Regions from separate parts of the Homo sapiens genome. Here region 1 is linked to region 2. A link means that fine-mapping ties the variant in region 2 to the expression of a gene that starts in the linked region. Tissue or cell type: monocytes after R848. Region 2 holds a variant in brackets; the other region holds the start of a gene. All regions are shown on one strand. Distances are from middle to middle.

Region 1 (8,103 bases), 26 kb before region 2:
AAAACCCACCCAAGATAAACTGCTCTTTTTATATGAGTAAAAAATTTTTCACTGCTGCTTCACTGGAATCATTAAGCTGGAGCGGGGAGGGAAAGGTGACACAGGTTACAGATGGCTGAGGCCAGGGCCAGAGCAGATTTGACAGGGTCCTGGGGGAGTGGCTGAGGCTTCCCCGGGTATCTTAGGACAAGTGCAGCTCTGTTACAATTTTCAGAGAAGCAAGGGAGTAACCACAGTTTCTTCTTGTGGAAAGATATGCTAAAGGGGTGTTTCATGGACACCCAGAAGAAAAGCAATTCTGTGTTTGTAAAAGGGCCCCAGTGCAGTCCACAAGAGAAGGGTTATCAGGAACTCAGAACCATCTTCCAAAGCAGTCTTTTGTTTTTTTGAGATGGAGTTTCATTCTGTCTCCCAGGCTGGAATGCAGTGGCACAATCTCGGCTCACTGCAACCTCCACCTCCCGGGTTCAAGCGATTCTCCTGCCTCAGCCTCCCGAGCAGCTAGGATTACAGGCATGCGCCACCACACCTGGCTAATTTTTGTATTTTTAGTAGAGACGGGGTTTCACCATGTTGGCCAGGCTAGTCTCGAACTCCTGACCTCAAGAGATATGCCTGCCTTGGGCTCCCAAAGTGGTAGGATTACATGCGTGAGAGCCACCATGCCCACCCAGCCAAAAGCAGTCATCTTGATGATCCTTCTTAAGGATGAAATGGGAGAGAGGGGTCTTAGAGGGGAGGAGTAAAAGTTGTAGAGTAGGGTTCGAAGGATGAATTTGAGAGGTGTTTAGCTTGGGGAGCACTTGCTCTAGACCCTGTGCCTAAAGGGGATCTGGGAGGCGGGGGCTTGGGGGAGTATAGATCAGAGCAGGGAGAAATAAAAGTAAGAGTTTGGACAGATGTTAGGCTGGTTAATAGGGGAATTCCAGAAGAAGGTTTGGGGAAAATTTAGAATAGGGAGGTGTGGGGTGGACAGGGGTTTTAGGAGACTCTGAAAGGTGAGGTGAAACATGGGGTGGGGTGGGGTAGAATGGAGCTAGGTACTCCAGGTGAAAATATAACAATCTGGTCAAAATGAGGAAATGCTGAAGAGTGGATATACTTCTAAGCACTGCATTTTCACTTTTTGATAATTTGGTTACACCATGAAGTAGTCTTACAAATAAATACCTTTAAATGGTTTTGCCCATTTAAAAATAATTCTTCAGGATCAGGCACAGTGGCTGAGGCCTATAATCCCAGCACTTTGGGAGGCCAAGGTGGGCAGATCACTTGAGGTCAGGAGTTCGAGACCAGCCTGGCCAACATGGTGAAACCCCATCTCTACTAAAAATACAAAAATTAGCCGGGTGTAGTGGTGAGCACCTGTAATCCCAGCTAATCAGGAGGCTAAGGCAGGAGAATCACTGGAACCCAGGAGGCAGAGGTTGCAGTGAGCCAAGACTGTGCCACTGCACTCGGGCCTGGGCCACAGAGCTAGACTCTGTCTCAAAAAAAAAATTGTTCATATTTTCTTTCTAAAATGCGGAAACAAAATCTACAGTATGGAAGCAATTGAATAAATTTTGGTATGTCATAAAATAAAATACATGTAATTGTGTATGAAACATAGACGGGTGGTATATTAGATGGGAGAAAAAAGCAGGTTACTAAAAAGTGAACTTTTGTGATGTATCTTTTTTAAGTATAAGCATGTTGTAACATATATATATATATATATATATATATATATGAATGGATTCTGATCAAAATACACCAAAATGTTAACAGTGATTGTCCCTAGCCACTTATGCTGCTGGCCTGTCTTGTCTTCTTTTTATTTCTTCGAGACGGGGTCTCACTCTGTCCCCCAGGTTGGAGAGTAGTGGCACAATCTCAGCTCACTGCAACCTCCACATCCCAGGCTCAAGTGATCCTCCCACCTCAGCCTCCTGAGTAACTGGGACCACAGGTGAGCCACCAAGCCCGGCTAATTTTTTGTATTTTTGGTAGAGATGGGGTTTCACCCTGTTGCCCAGGCTGGTCTCGAACTCCTGAGCTCAGGTGATCCAACTGCCTCAGCGTTTCAAAGTGAAGTGGTGGGAATACAAGCGTGAGCCACCATGCCTGTCCTCATTTTTCTATAAGTGTACACTACTTTTATAATTGGGTCAAAAAAGACAACTGTAGAAGGATAAAAAATATTGAAGGACTAGTTTTTCTAATGCATTTTCAGCCTATTTGGAACTGGAGTGTTGTGAATGTTTTCATATTTACAAACTAGTATGAACAATCCAACTTCTCAATCTCTCATTTACATTTTTCTGACCTCTATGCATAGCCTAGGTGTGAGGTGATGGAAAAAGCTGGTTTAGAGATCAAGATGCTCAAACACAAAAGTCCCCCAAATCCTGAGAGTTTTTTGTTTTTTTAAAAAAATCCTTAAAACATTTAAAGACGCATAAAACTCTTCACCCACTCAGTGGTGCAAAAAATTTACCAATACTAGAAGGGGAGGAGGCTGGCAACGACTGGAAATATTCCCTTTCAAGTAATAAATAATGGTTATTTTGAACCAAATTGCTTTCCACCTCAAGTCCTCCATGGATGGGAGCCTGGAGGATGCAGTGATGGGGGTTATGGAATGGAAAGGAGCGTGGGTAATTGGGTTTGTGAGGATTGGGGCCAGGCAGAGGGAACTGGGGGCTTTTCCAGGACCACTGGGGAACACAGAGGCTGAGAAGGGGAGTGTGGGATGGGTTCGAGCTGGGGAGGACCTCGGCCTCGCCAGGCTCTAAGGAGAGTCACAGCTCACCACCTAGGGCGCTGGGACCACACGATGTCATGCCTGGGAGACTGAAGGGCTAGGACAGATTCTGAGAAAATGTGGACTGGAGATGGGGATTCCAGGTTCTCCCGGGAGTCCAGGCGAGGGAGTTCCGGCTTCAGGGAGTCCCAAGAGCTAGACTGGGAAGGGGCTGGTGCCCAGGACTATGAGAAATCCAGACTCCCCTGGGGTGTGAAAAAGGGCCGAGGTCCGGCTGAGGGAGAGCGAGTCTGAAAGAGTTCGGGCTCCCTTGCGGGTCCGAGAGTCTAACGAAGGCTCTGGGCACCCAGGCCGCACCTGAAGAGCACCAACGACTGCTCGGTCCGCGGCGCGGGAAGGAGATGTGCGGCTGAACCCCTACGCCGATTACTTAGCGGCGGCCCTATCGAGAGGGTGGTTCGAGCCCGAGGTGGCGCCGGTCCCGTAAATCGTGGAGGATCTCAGGTCCCCTGTGACCAAGGGCGTAGTCAGCTGTGTCATGGCGGCTTCCCTGTTCGAGAAACAGTTGGAAACTGGAGGCCGGTTGGGAGTCATGGTCGTTGGGCGCACGGAGGCCGGTTGGAAGCCATGGTCGTTGGGCGCCAGGAGGCCGGTTGAGAGCCGTGCTCGTTGGACGCGCGCAGACCTGGAGTTAGTCCCTGGGCGGAACCTGGAGCCCCGCGCGGCGCGTTGCCTGGGAGACGCATAAGGGGGCGGGGCCGGGGAGGGAGTGTCGCACATGCGCACAGAGCCCGGGCGGCTACGGAAGCGGTGAGACTGTCTCTCGGCTGCAGCCCTGGTGCGACCCGGCCCGTTGCCGTAGAGATGGGCAGGGCTGGATGGAGTGGGGTGCGGTGAGCTGAGCTGACCCTGCTTCGCCACGGGGACTGCAGTGACCCCGGCTTGCCGGCAGGGCGGGTAACAGGTTGAGCCAGGGTGGGGCTGCTCAGGGGCGTGGAGCCGAGGCCAGGATTTCTCTGAAGACCCGGCACAGGCTATTCCTTTCTGCGACGAGCCCATTGCTATGGAAACCAAAGCGTTAGGCCAGCGGGGATTGAGGCTGCGGGATCATGACGGGTCTCTCTCCCGAAGAACCTTGCCTAAGGCTTCCCCAAGCGGCTACTTCCTGAGCGAACCCGCCCACCCGCCTGAAGGAGAGAGGTAAAACCCTGGGGGTCCTGACACTAAGCAGGCGAAGAAGCCTATTCCAATGCCAGCTCCCCTAGGAAACCTACCCGGCCCACCCCTAGAAGTGATGCTTCGCTCTCGTTAACTCTTGGACTTTGTTCCATGTTTATAACTTAGTATTTCACGAACGCCCCGCGGTGTTTGTTCATTTTTCCCACACATAATGGACCATAAAGGTCGGCTTCTTTGCTTTATGACTCGTTCTGAACAAGTCCTTTTCCGCGCTGTGTCTCACTTTCCTCTTTTGTAAAATGGAAATATTAACTCTAGACGCCGGTCTGATTAGGTTGCTTTGAAGATCGAACCAGATGAGGGAAGCCAAATACTTCATAGGCTGTAAAGTGGTGAAGCTGAACTGCTACCGAGTTGCTATTTTTTTCTCCTCCTCCCTCTCAAGCTAAACGTTCTTTAGATCTTTTGTGATTTCTTCAGGTGGTCTTTGCGACTCCCTAGGCTCCGACCTGGAAGAAATCTTTTTTACACTTCCCTTTCACAGAGCCCTGCATTTTAACTTCCCTATCAGAAGCGAGAAAAATAGTTATCATTTTGAGAGGGCTTACTCTATGCCAAGCCCTGAGAAAACTCTTTACGTGGATTATCTCGTTTAATTTCACAACATCCTTTTAAGGTAGGTACTGTTATCCTATTTTCAAGCTCTGTCTGCCTGTAATTGCCTGTTTACTATCTGTTTCTCCCACTAGTCTTTGAGCTCCCTGAGAAAAGGGGCCATGCCTGTCTTGTACATTTCAGTATCTCCAACACCTAATACAGTGCCTGATAGAGATTGCTTTTTTTTTTTTTTTTTTTTTTTTTGAGATGGAGTCTCACGCTGTCTCCCAGGCTGGAGTGCAGTGGCACGATCTTGGCTCACTGCAGCCTCCGCCTCCCGGGTTCAAGCAATTCTCCCGTCTCAGCCTCCTGAGTAGCTGGGACTACAGGCCCATGCCACCACGCCTGGCTAATTTTTGTATTTTTAGTAGAGACGGGGGTTTCACCATGTTGGTCAGGCTGGTCTTGAACTCCTGACCTCAGGTGATCTGCCCGCCTCGGCCTTCCAAAGTGCTGGGATTATAGGCTTAAGCCACCGTGCCCAGCCCTGATAGATATTTCTTAACTAGCATGAAAATGACTCCTCGCATCACTACCCTCACCTGCAAGAGCATTGTCACTTCTGCAGACTTTTAGTGGCTATAATGAACAGCACATTCCTCTATTCCCGTTACCCACTGGGCACTGGTTTGGGGGGACATCAGTTCACTTCTCTATGGATTTTCTGATGACGAGGATCCAGAACATTCCTTAGCATTTAGACTTCCATCTGGGTTCAGGAGGCTTTTTCTTTGCCCTTCATATCACCTCTGTAGCAAGCCAGCCCTCTCTGTCCTTCCGGGAATGAGCCTGATGCATTTGAGTCTGGGGCATTGGCAGGTAGGATTTGCCTATACAACCTTTGGTCTTTCTCTTTAGTAGCCTCAGAACCACCCCCATCCCCACCCAGCCCCTCCCTGGAATTCTGGAGACACGCTGCCAGAGAACTCATTCTTTCCAGAAAACCTCTCAGAAGGCAGAGTCATAGCTGTTGGGAGTCATTTCTTCATTCAACAAATATTTATCAAGCACCTACTTGTGGGGACACAGCGCTTGGCACTAGTTGGTGATAGAGTGGGAGTGAAGACAGACACCATCATATCCCTAAAGGGCTCACAGTCTCTTGGGGAGACAGACATTAATCAAATAATCAGACAGATCGGAGCAAAACTACGTCTTCAGTAAGTGTTAGGAAGGAGAGAACATAGGGCTAAGAAAGCCTGGAGCAGAGTTGGTCAAACGTGAGGGAGGGGTGTGATCTAAGGAGATTTCCCTTAAAACAGTTACCTTTAAGTTGATATCTTAAGGCTCCTCAGACTTCTGCAGTCCTCTGCTGAATGGACCAGATCAGGATCTGATGGGTTCATAAGGAAAGAGACTGAGAGATCAGCAGGGGCAAAGGCCACTGGCTGGAGAGGACAGGTTGTCCCTAAGGAACTGTAAGTGGCTCGGTTCACCTGAGGCCCTTCAGAGCATGGAGAAGCCTAATAAGAGGCTGGAGAGACAGGCAGGAGCCAGGTCACAAATGGCCTTGACAGCCAAACTAAGTGGCTCCATCTTATCCTCACAGTGGATAGCCACTGAAATATATTAAGCAGGGAAACAAAACTTTGGCTCCTCATTTCTCGTGCCTGGTGAAGACTGCCACTTGGCCTTGAAAGGTGTGATCTAAATCCAAATGTCCCTATTTCAGCGGAATGTATAAAGATGTCCTGGTTTTTGCAGCTTTGTTTAAGACTGAGAAAGTGAGGGTCCGAGAGTCTAATGAATGCTCTGGGCACCCAGGCCGCACCTGAGGAGCACCGACGACTGCACGGTCTGCGGCGCGGGAAGCAGATCTGCGGCTGAACCTCTACCCCAATTACTTAGCGGCGACTGAGCCTATCGAGCAGGTGAAGGGAAGGGGTCTGCCTCTCCCTGGGGTGTGTTTCACAGCTCTGCTGCAGGCAGCATGATGCAGGTGTGGCAGGTCTTCCTAAGGCCCTGCTGTCTCTGTGCTTGTCCCTGGGGTTGCTGTGGTGCCCATTATGCTGGCTTCCAGGAAGCTTTCAGCCACTCCCTTTCCCAGGCCTTCTTCAGAGGCAAGGTGCAGGAGCATGTCTAACAATTTAGGACTTTGTATTTGACATCAGCTTCGCATGGGCATATCCTGTCTCTTTAAAGAGATGGTTCTTAGAGGGGGAAAATGGGAACCCTCCCTACTCTTATACCAGCCTCCTCAGTGACTGCCAGCACAGTGGGCTCTGGTTCCATGCCACTGGCTCAGGACCTTATGATTTGGGCATAAAGTCAGAAGACTGAGGAGGAAGACTGTACAAATGGTTCCCACTCAGAGGGGCTGGAAGGAAGGAGAGAATTTGGAAGAGCAGCAAGAAAAGGGCTCTGTGAGCTTAAATGGAGAATCAGGCCAAGGCACAGCTGAGGGACACAAGTCATCTGCCCAACTAGAGCTGTGGGACCCCTCAAGGGAGGCCTCAAGTGCCAGACTTGGGGACTTGCCATTTGTCCTATAGGGCAGTGCACATTAGACCACCTGAGAAGCATGCTGAAAATGCAGATTCATGCTCTTCACCCCGAGAGTCTGACTGTGGGTTTGGAGAGGGACCTGGGTATCTGTACTTTAAATGAGTTTGCTGGGTAGTTCTGCTGTGATGGTCAGAGGACTGCCTTGGGGAATGCTATAAGCCTATCCATCCATTTCCCAGGGATCCCCTGGAATTGGCCCTCTGGGCACCTGCCCTCTAAACATCCTCTCCCTCTCTGCAGTTTTCCATGGACACAGCCTAGCAGAAAGACGCAGCCTTCGTGCTTCGCTGACTGCTGACCACTGACCCACCGCCTTGATGACAGCACCCTCGTGTGCCTTCCCAGTTCAGTTCCGGCAGCCCTCAGTCAGCGGCCTCTCGCAGATAACCAAAAGCCTGTATATCAGCAATGGTGTGGCCGCCAACAACAAGCTCATGCTGTCTAGCAACCAGATCACCATGGTCATCAATGTCTCAGTGGAGGTAGTGAACACCTTGTATGAGGATATCCAGTACATGCAGGTACCTGTGGCTGACTCCCCTAACTCACGTCTCTGTGACTTCTTTGACCCTATTGCTGACCATATCCACAGCGTGGAGATGAAGCAGGGCCGTACTTTGCTGCACTGTGCTGCTGGTGTGAGCCGCTCAGCTGCCCTGTGCCTCGCCTACCTCATGAAGTACCACGCCATGTCCCTGCTGGACGCCCACACGTGGACCAAGTCATGCCGGCCCATCATCCGACCCAACAGCGGCTTTTGGGAGCAGCTCATCCACTATGAGTTCCAATTGTTTGGCAAGAACACTGTGCACATGGTCAGTTCCCCAGTGGGAATGATCCCTGACATCTATGAGAAGGAAGTCCGTTTGATGATTCCACTGTGAGCCATCCCACGAGCCCCTGCATTGGAGTCAGAGGTACAGATCTATTGTTGATCTTACACCAAGATCCAAACTTGAACATTCTACTTTTGTTGATACAGAAAAAAACAGATGATGCCTTTTATGAGCACAAAA
Region 2 (8,103 bases):
AAGGGCAGGCCAGCAGAGGGTCCCAGCTCTGCCACTTACTAGCCACATGGGGGCCTTTGCATTAAAAAAGAAGAGTTTATAAAAGAAAATAATAAATTGGGTCAAAAGTGTGACCCATTCATTGCCTCATTCACTTATGACCACTGGAGTGACAAGGGGACAAAAGGTCATTGTGGGATCTTGGCTCTCACTCACTGTTTATAACTGATAATCAGCATCTTTTTTTTTTCCTGCTAATACTGTGGCTTGTCAAGATGAATCCAGGACTAAGAGGAAACCTTTTCACTTTGTAAGGCAGGAGGGGATCTTGCTGCTTTGCCTATGTGTGACTGTGTATCTGTGTGTACCTACGTGTACACATGCCACCACCAGCCAATTCACAAAGGGGTGCCCAGGCGAAATGACATTATTATTATTATTTGAGACAGGGTCTGGTTCTCTTGCCCAGGCGAAATGACATTATTATTATTATTTGAGACAGGGTCTGGTTCTCTTGCCCAGGCTGGAGTGTAGTGGTACGATGTCAGTTTACTGCCTTCCGAGCTCAAGCGATCCTCCCTTCTCAGCCTCCCAAGTAGCTGGGGCTACAGGCATGCACCATCACCCCTGAAAATTTTTGTATTTTTTGTAGAGATGGGGTTTCGTCATCTGGTTCACCCAGGCTGGTCTCAAACTCCTAGACTCAAGCAATCTGCTCAGCTTGGCCTCCCAAAGTGCTGGGATTACAGGTGTGAGCCATTGCGCCTGGCTGAAATGACATTATTTGCATGAGGGCAATGATGGCATGGGGCCTTTGCCAAGTTAGTGGAGAGAGATGAGTAGTCGACACAGGTCCCCTCCCAGGCCTCTGTGAGCCTCTATGCATTTTCTGACACACACTTTCCAAAAAGCCACAGAGATGCTTACTCATAGGCTATGCTTAGAATAGGAAATTTTATTTCTCTCTCAATTTCATTCCGATGTTTTAGCTTTGTTCTCTAGGCAACAAACAGTCCCTCTGGCTCAAGCGTTTCTAGAAATGAACAGATAATCAGAATGCCTCCTGCTCGCAGGCTCGAAAGTTAACAGTGTTATGAGCTACCTGTGGCTTGCACATTAAACGTCCCATCACAAGAAGGCGGTTGGGTTTTCAGGTGAACTTCACCTTTGGTAAATTTCACCCTCTGCAAGGCAGCCAGGCAGGAAGGTCCTAAACTTCCCACCCATCTCCTCACACCTATTGTACATCCCACCCAATCCTCCACCTCCCCTCCCTGCAGCCCAGGGAAAGGGCAGCCATTCGCTGTCAGAGGCGGTGACTGGCTTCTACCTGGGGACCCCAAAATGTCAGCCTGTTTGTCCTGCCTCATTGCCACCTCTCCTTCTATTGGAACATGCCCAAGTTTCTGCCACATGCAGACAACAGCTGACCCTTCTCTAAACCCTGTCTGCTTGCTATTGGCTTGGCCCTTTTGCTCTTTCACGGGCTGTGTGATACTGTCTCCCTCTCTCCACGCCTCAGTCTCCTTAAGTCGTGTGGCTCGGGTAGCAACAGCCCCCTCACATGTGAGGTGCTGAACACAGGGCCTGATGCCCTGTGTGATGTCCTTGATGCCGGCTCACCCCGGCAGCTGGCATGATCCCCACACCCTGCTCCTGCTGGCTGACACCCTGTGCCCTGGCACGGCCTGTTTCCCATTCCCAGATCACCCTTTCCTCCTCCTTCAGTATGAAGAGCTGGGCATGGTGTGGGCACCTAGGGAGGCCCCAACAAATGTTTGCTCTCATGGTTACATTATTGTCATCATCATTGCATGTCTCTTCCCCTAGATAGCCTTCTCAGCGCTCCCCAGGAAGAAGCAACCGCTCCCCAACACGTGTGACCACTTTGACTCTAGAACTTCTTTTCTGCCATCATGATCTCTATATCTGAGTGCATCTCCCCCATCAGCCTGAGAGCTCAGAGGGGTTGAGTCCGCCTGCTCTGTGATGCGGACGGGCGGGGGAGTCCAGCTGAGAGCAAGCTCAGCAGGCTGGCGCCCCACTTCCCACCCTTTCTGTGGGTAGGAGGATGGCATAACCCCTCTCCTTGTGCAGGCTCCCTGGGCCTACAACTGGCCCAAGAAGGAGGGAAGTCGCTGGCCCTGCCAACAGCTGCCTGGGCTCTCCTCTTTCTGGATACTTTTTTTTTTTTTTTTTTGAGACGGAGTCTCACTCTGTCGCCCAGGCTGGAGTGTAGTAGCGCTATCTGGGCTCACTGCAAGCTCCGCCTCCCGGGTTCACGCCATTCTCCTGCCTCAGCCTCCCGACTAGCTGGGACTACAGGTGCCCACCACCACACCTGGCTATTTTTTTGTATTTTTTAGTAGAGACGGGGTTTCACTGTGTTAGCCAGGATGGTCTCAATCTCCTGACCTCATGATCCACCCACCTTGGCCTCCCAAAGTGCTGGGATTACAGGTGTGAACCACCGTGCCTGGCCTTTTTTTTTTTTTTTTTTGAGATGTTGCCCAGGCTAGAGTGCAATGGTGTGATATCTCGGCTCACTGCAACCTCCGCCTCCCTGGTTCAAGAGATTCTCCTACCTCAGCCTCCCGAGTAGCTGGGATGACAGGCATGCACCAGCATGCCCAGCTAATTTTTTTTGTATTTTTAGTAGAGACGGGGATTCACCATGCTGGCCAGGCTGGTCTCGAACTCCTGACCTCAAGTGAGCTGCCTGCCTTGGCTTCCCAAAGTGCTGGGATTACAGGCGTGAGCCACCATGCCCAGCCTTCTTTCTGGATACTTGCCCTCTGCTCCCACAAACTCTGCTCTCAGGAATGGAGCTGGCATCAGCCACGTACACTCACGTCTGAATCTGGCCCTGGTGCCTCTCCTGGAGCCTCCTGCAGTAGAAACCTTTTGTTCAAAACCTATCTCAGGCTGGGTGTGGTGGCTCATGCCCGTAATCCCAGCACTTTAGGCCGAGGTGGGTAAATCACTTGAGTCTAGGAGTTGGAGACCAGCCTGGGCAACATGATGAAACCCCATTTCTACAAAAAATACAAAAATTAGCTGGGCATGGAGGCACGCCTATAGTCCTAGCTACTCGGGAGGCTGAGGTGGGAGGATTGCCCGAGCCTGGGAAATTGAGGCCGCAGTGAGCCACTGCACTCCAGCCTGGATGACAGAGCAAGACCCTCTCATAAACAAACAAACAAACAAGCAAAAAAAGCCTATCTCAGGCCCTGGCTCAAGTCTGTTCCTCCCCATCTCTGCAGGGCTCCTATCTCTGTTAGTGGGGCCTCTAGCCCCCTAAACTCCCTCCTGAATCAGGCAGCCCAACCAGTCTATGAGATCAGCTCGCCTGTCAGAGCCATCAGTAAATCTGTCGGCATGTTGGCTCACACCTGTAATTCCAGCACTTTGGGAGGCCCGGAGGGAAGATCACTTGAGGCCAGGGGTTTGAGACCAGCCTGGGCAACATAGTGAGCCTGTTTCTAAAAAAAAAAAAAAAAAAAAAAAAAAATTAAAAATTAGCCAGGACGGTGGCATGAGCCTGTAGTCCCAGCTACTCAGGAGGCTGAGGCACAAGAATTGCTTGAAACCAGGAGGCAGAGGTTGCAATGAGCTGAGATTGCACTGCTGCATTCCAGCCTGGGCGACAGAGAGAGATTGTCTCAAAAAAAAAAATAATAAAATAAAATTTAAAAATTATAATTTACAAATTATGTATCCTCTGCAAGGCCCCAGGGCTAGGTTCCAGGAACATAGAATTGCCCCAAATCTGTCTGGCAGGCAGCAGACAGGTAACCAGGTGGTGATCATACATGGCATTTGGAACCATGATAGGGGGAGCAGAGGATACCGCAGGAGCCCAGAGCAAGGACTCAACCTCCCAGGGGTCAGGAGTTAAGACTAGGGAGGGAGGGAAGGAGGGAGCTGGCAGGAGTCAAGATGCAGCCCGATGCCAGGCACATGCCACTCCATGCCCAAGTGCCTGAGGCCTGGCCGGCCATTGCCCCTCCT[G/A]CAGGCTGGGGCTGCCTGGGTCCCAGTGTGAGAAGCACTGACTCTTTCTCAGCAGGGGCAGCATGGGCCTTGAGGTTAGGACCTTCACAGCCCTGTGGCCTGCACAGGGGTGCCCACAGGTCAGGTTTCCCAGTGCAGACTCATGCCCAGAGCTCATGCCTGTGCTCAGCCTCTAGCTCTCATGTAACCTGAGGGCAAAAAATAGAACTGGGTTTTGACCCTGCCTTGGAGCCAGGGAGGATAGAGATAGGGCCTCTGTGTCAGCTCTGAATACGCCAGGGCAGGGCTGAACTCTGACTTCAATCTTCCCTGGCTGTGGGCTGTCATCAATCCCAGCCCAGCACTCTTGGTGTGCCCACTTCCTTCTCCCAGGCCTGGGTCACAGGATCTCAGGGCGAAGGGAGAGCAAGAGGCCCCTTGGACTCCATCAACTCCAACTCTCCTCCACTGACAGATGAGGAAACTGAGGCCCAGATAAAATCCCAATATGCCCAAGGTTGCCCAGCAAATATGAGCAAAGGTATGGCTGGAACCCAGGCCTCCCCACCCTGAGTGGGCACCCTGGCCTCCCCTATGTCTCCTTGGGTTGAGGCAGAGAGAGGATAGAGGCTGCGACTCAGATGCCCCTCAGTAGGAAAGGCAGGAAGCCAGCCTTCGCCCTCAGGCAGAATGATCTAGTGGGTCTGGGCCTGGAGCCTCGGCCCTAAACTGCCCAGAGCCCTGCTGCCCTCTTTCATCAGAGCCAGCATCTGGAGTCACATAGACCATGCTTCACATCATTAGGGACCCCGTGACCTCTGTGCAAATCATGAACTTCTTTCTTTCTTTCTTCTTTTTTTTTTTTTTTTTGAGATGGAGTCTAGCTCTGTCCCTAGGCTGGAGTGCAGTGGCGTGATCTCGGCTCACTGCAACCTCTGCCTCCTGGGTTCAAGTGATTCTCCTGCCTCAGGTTCCCGAGTAGGGGGGATTACAGGCAGGCGCCACCACGCCCAGCTAATTTTTGTAATTTTAGTAGACAGGGTTTCACCACGTTGGCCAGGATGGTCTTGATCTCCTGACCTCGTGATCCTCCCACCTCTGTTGCGGGAAGTCAGGGACCCCAAACGGAGGGACCAGCTGAAGCCATTGCAGAAGAACGTGGATTGTGAAGATTTCATGGACATTTATTAGTTTCCCAAATTAATACTTTTGTAATTTCTTACGCCTGTCTTTACTGCAATCTCTGAACATAAATTGTGAAGATTTCATGGACACTTATCACTTCTCCAACCAATACCCTTGTGATTTCCTATGCCTATCTTTAATCTCTTAATCCCATCATCTTCGTAAGCTGAGGAGGCTGTATGTCGCCTCAGGACCCTGTGATGATTGCGTTAACTGCACAAATTGTAGAGCATGTGTGTTTGAACAATATGAAATCTGGGCACCTTGAAAGAACAGGATAACAGCAATGTTCAGGGAACAAGAGAGATAATCTTAAACTCTGACTGCCGGTGAGCCGGGTGGAACAGAGCCATATTTCTCTTCTTTCAAAAGCAAATGGGAGAAATGTTGCTGAATTCTTTTTCTCAGCAAGGGACATCCTTGAGAAAGAGAATGCGTCCCTGAGGGTAGGCCTCTAAAATGGCTGCTTCTGGGGGGCGGCCATCTTTTATGGTCGAAGCTGTAGGGATGAAATAAGCCCCAGTCTCCCATAGCGCTCCCAGGCTTATTAGGACGAGGAAATTCCCGCCTAATAAATTTTGGTCAGACTGGTTGTCTGCTCTCAAACCCTGTCTCTTGATAAGATGTTATCAATGACAATGCGTGCCCGAAACTTCATTAGCAATTTTAATTTCACCCCGGTCCTATGGTCCTGTGATCTGGCCCTGCCTCCATTTGCCTTGTGATATTCTATTACCTTGTGAAGCACGTGGTCTCTGTGACCCACATCCTATTGGTACACTCCCTCCCCTTTTGAAAATCACTAATCAAAACTTGCTGGTTTTATGGCTCAGGGGGCATCACGGAACCTGCCGACATATGATGTCTCCCCCGGACACCCAGCTTTAAAATTTCTCCCTTTTGTACTCTGTCCCTTTATTTCTCAGACCAGCTGACACTTAGGTAATACAGAAAAGAACCTACGTGAAATATCAGGGGTGAATTTCGCCCGATATCTGGCTGAATTTCCCCCAATACACCTCAGCCTCCCAAAGTGCTGGGATTACAGGTGTGAGCCACTGCGCTGGGCTGAACTTCTTTCTTTTTCTTGAGACAGAGTCTCATTCTGTCGCCCAGGCTGGAGTGCAGTGGTGTAATCTCAGCTCACTGCAACCTCCTTCTCCCGGGTTCAAGGAATTCTTATGCCTCAGCCTCCCCAGTAGCTGGGATTACAGGTGCATGCCACCTGGCCCGGCTAATTTTGAGACAGAGTTTCACTCTTGTTACCCAGGCTGGAGTGCAATAGCGTGATCTCAGCTCACTGCAACCTCCGCCTCCCAGGTTCAAGCGATTCTCTCACCTCAGCCTCCTGAGTAGCTGGGATTACAGGCGCCCACCATCACGCTCAGCTAATTTTTGTATTTTCAGTAGAGACAGGGTTTCCCCATGTTGGCCAGGCTGGTCTCGAACTCCTGACCTCAGGTGATCCACTTGCCTCGGCCTCCCAAAGTGCTGGGATTACAGCTGTGAGCCACTGCGCCTGGCCCAATTTTTTTTTTTTTTTTTTTTTTTTTGAGATGGAGTCTCACTCTGTCGCCTTGGCTGGAGTGCAGTGGGGCGATCTTGGCTCACTGCAACCTCTGCCACCCGGGTTCAAGCTATTCTCCTGCCTCAGCCTCCCGAGTAGCTGGGATTACAGACACCTGCCATGGCGCCCGGTTAATTTTTTTGTATTTTTAGTAGAGATGGGGTTTCACCACCTTGGTTAGTCTGTTCTTGAACTTCTGACCTCATGATCCACCCGCCTCAGCCTCCCAAAGTGCTGGAATTACAGGCATGAGACACCGCGCCCGGCCCCAATTTTTGTATTTTTAATAGATACAGGGTTTCACCATGTTGGCCAGGGTGGTCTCGAACTCCTGGTCTCAAGAGTCCTCCCACCTCAGCCTCCCAAAGTGCTGGGATTACAGGCATGAGATACCATGCCCAGCCTGTCAAATCATGAACTTCTCTGGGTCTTAGTCCCATCATCTGTAAAATGGGGATAAAGTTGGTGGTTGCCATGACAACTCAAGGTCAACACTCAGCACCAAGCCTGTCACACTGTAGCTCCCAGTAAACAACAGCCCTCCCCAGACTTAGACCTGACCCCTGACCTTCCAAATCCCAGCTCATCCCAGACCCTCCTTTTCTCTCCCTGGCCCATGCTTTCTGGCTTTCCTTTGTGTCCAAAGCCTCAGGCCACATCTCTTGGAAGCATGGAGTCTGACTATCTGGGTTTAGATCTTGCCTCTGCTGCTCACTGGCCACGTGGCCCAGGGCAAGCCTCTTCATCTATCAAATGGGAACAATACAGTGAGATAAAAGGCTAGTCAAACACAGATCACTGGCTATCACTAAATACTGGTTTGTAATTCCAGAACTTCAGGAAGCTGAGGGGGGAAGATCGCTGAGGACAGGAGTTCAAGACCTACCTTGGCAACATAGCAAGACTCTGTGTCTATAAAAAAAAAAAATTAGCTGACCAGGTGGGGTGGCTCACGCTTGAAATCCTAGCACCTTGGGAGGTCAGGAGTTCAAGATCAGCCTGGCCAACATGGTAAAATGCTGTCTCTACTAAAAATACAAAAATTAGCTTAGCGTGGTGGTGTGCACCTGTAGTCCCACTTACTTGGGAGGCTGAGGCAGAAGAATCACTTGAACCCAGGATGCGGAGGCTGTATTGAGCTGAGATCTCACCAATGCAGCCTGGGTGACAGAGCCAGACCCTGTCTAAATAAGTAAATAAACAAATAAACACGAGTTGGGCCTCCAGAGCCTGAGTCTGGGGCCTGGAACTCACTGAACTGTTGGCCCTCTCTGAGCCTCAGTTCTGCTTCCTCCACAGCCATGAACCTCAGTTTCCTCATTTGTAAAATGGGACAACAGCCATACCCCTCACAGGGCCATCCAGGCCATGCACCCACCCGG

The links. PIP is the estimated chance that this variant, and not a neighbour inherited with it, causes the effect.
Region 1: DUSP18 starts here. The variant in region 2 is fine-mapped to the expression of DUSP18 in monocytes after R848 (Quach 2016, PIP 0.95). The same link has a PIP of 0.9 or more in monocytes, monocytes after LPS and monocytes after Pam3CSK4.

What each region holds. Positions count from the first base shown.
Region 1 is chr22:30,663,305-30,671,407 of GRCh38, reverse strand. It overlaps DUSP18 (dual specificity phosphatase 18), which reads left to right and starts at 3,533. Exons shown (of 2, transcript NM_152511.5): 1 at 3,533-3,946; 2 at 7,328-8,103. The coding sequence starts at 7,405. The coding sequence ends at 7,971. It also overlaps a transcript of SLC35E4 not described here. RefSeq lists an enhancer at 3,046-3,435.
Region 2 is chr22:30,637,106-30,645,208 of GRCh38, reverse strand. The region is part of intron 1 of SLC35E4 (solute carrier family 35 member E4); the gene reads right to left. Among named protein-coding and RNA genes, the nearest start is that of SLC35E4, 5.4 kb to the right of the region's middle. The variant G/A (reference allele first, on the strand shown) is at 3,991.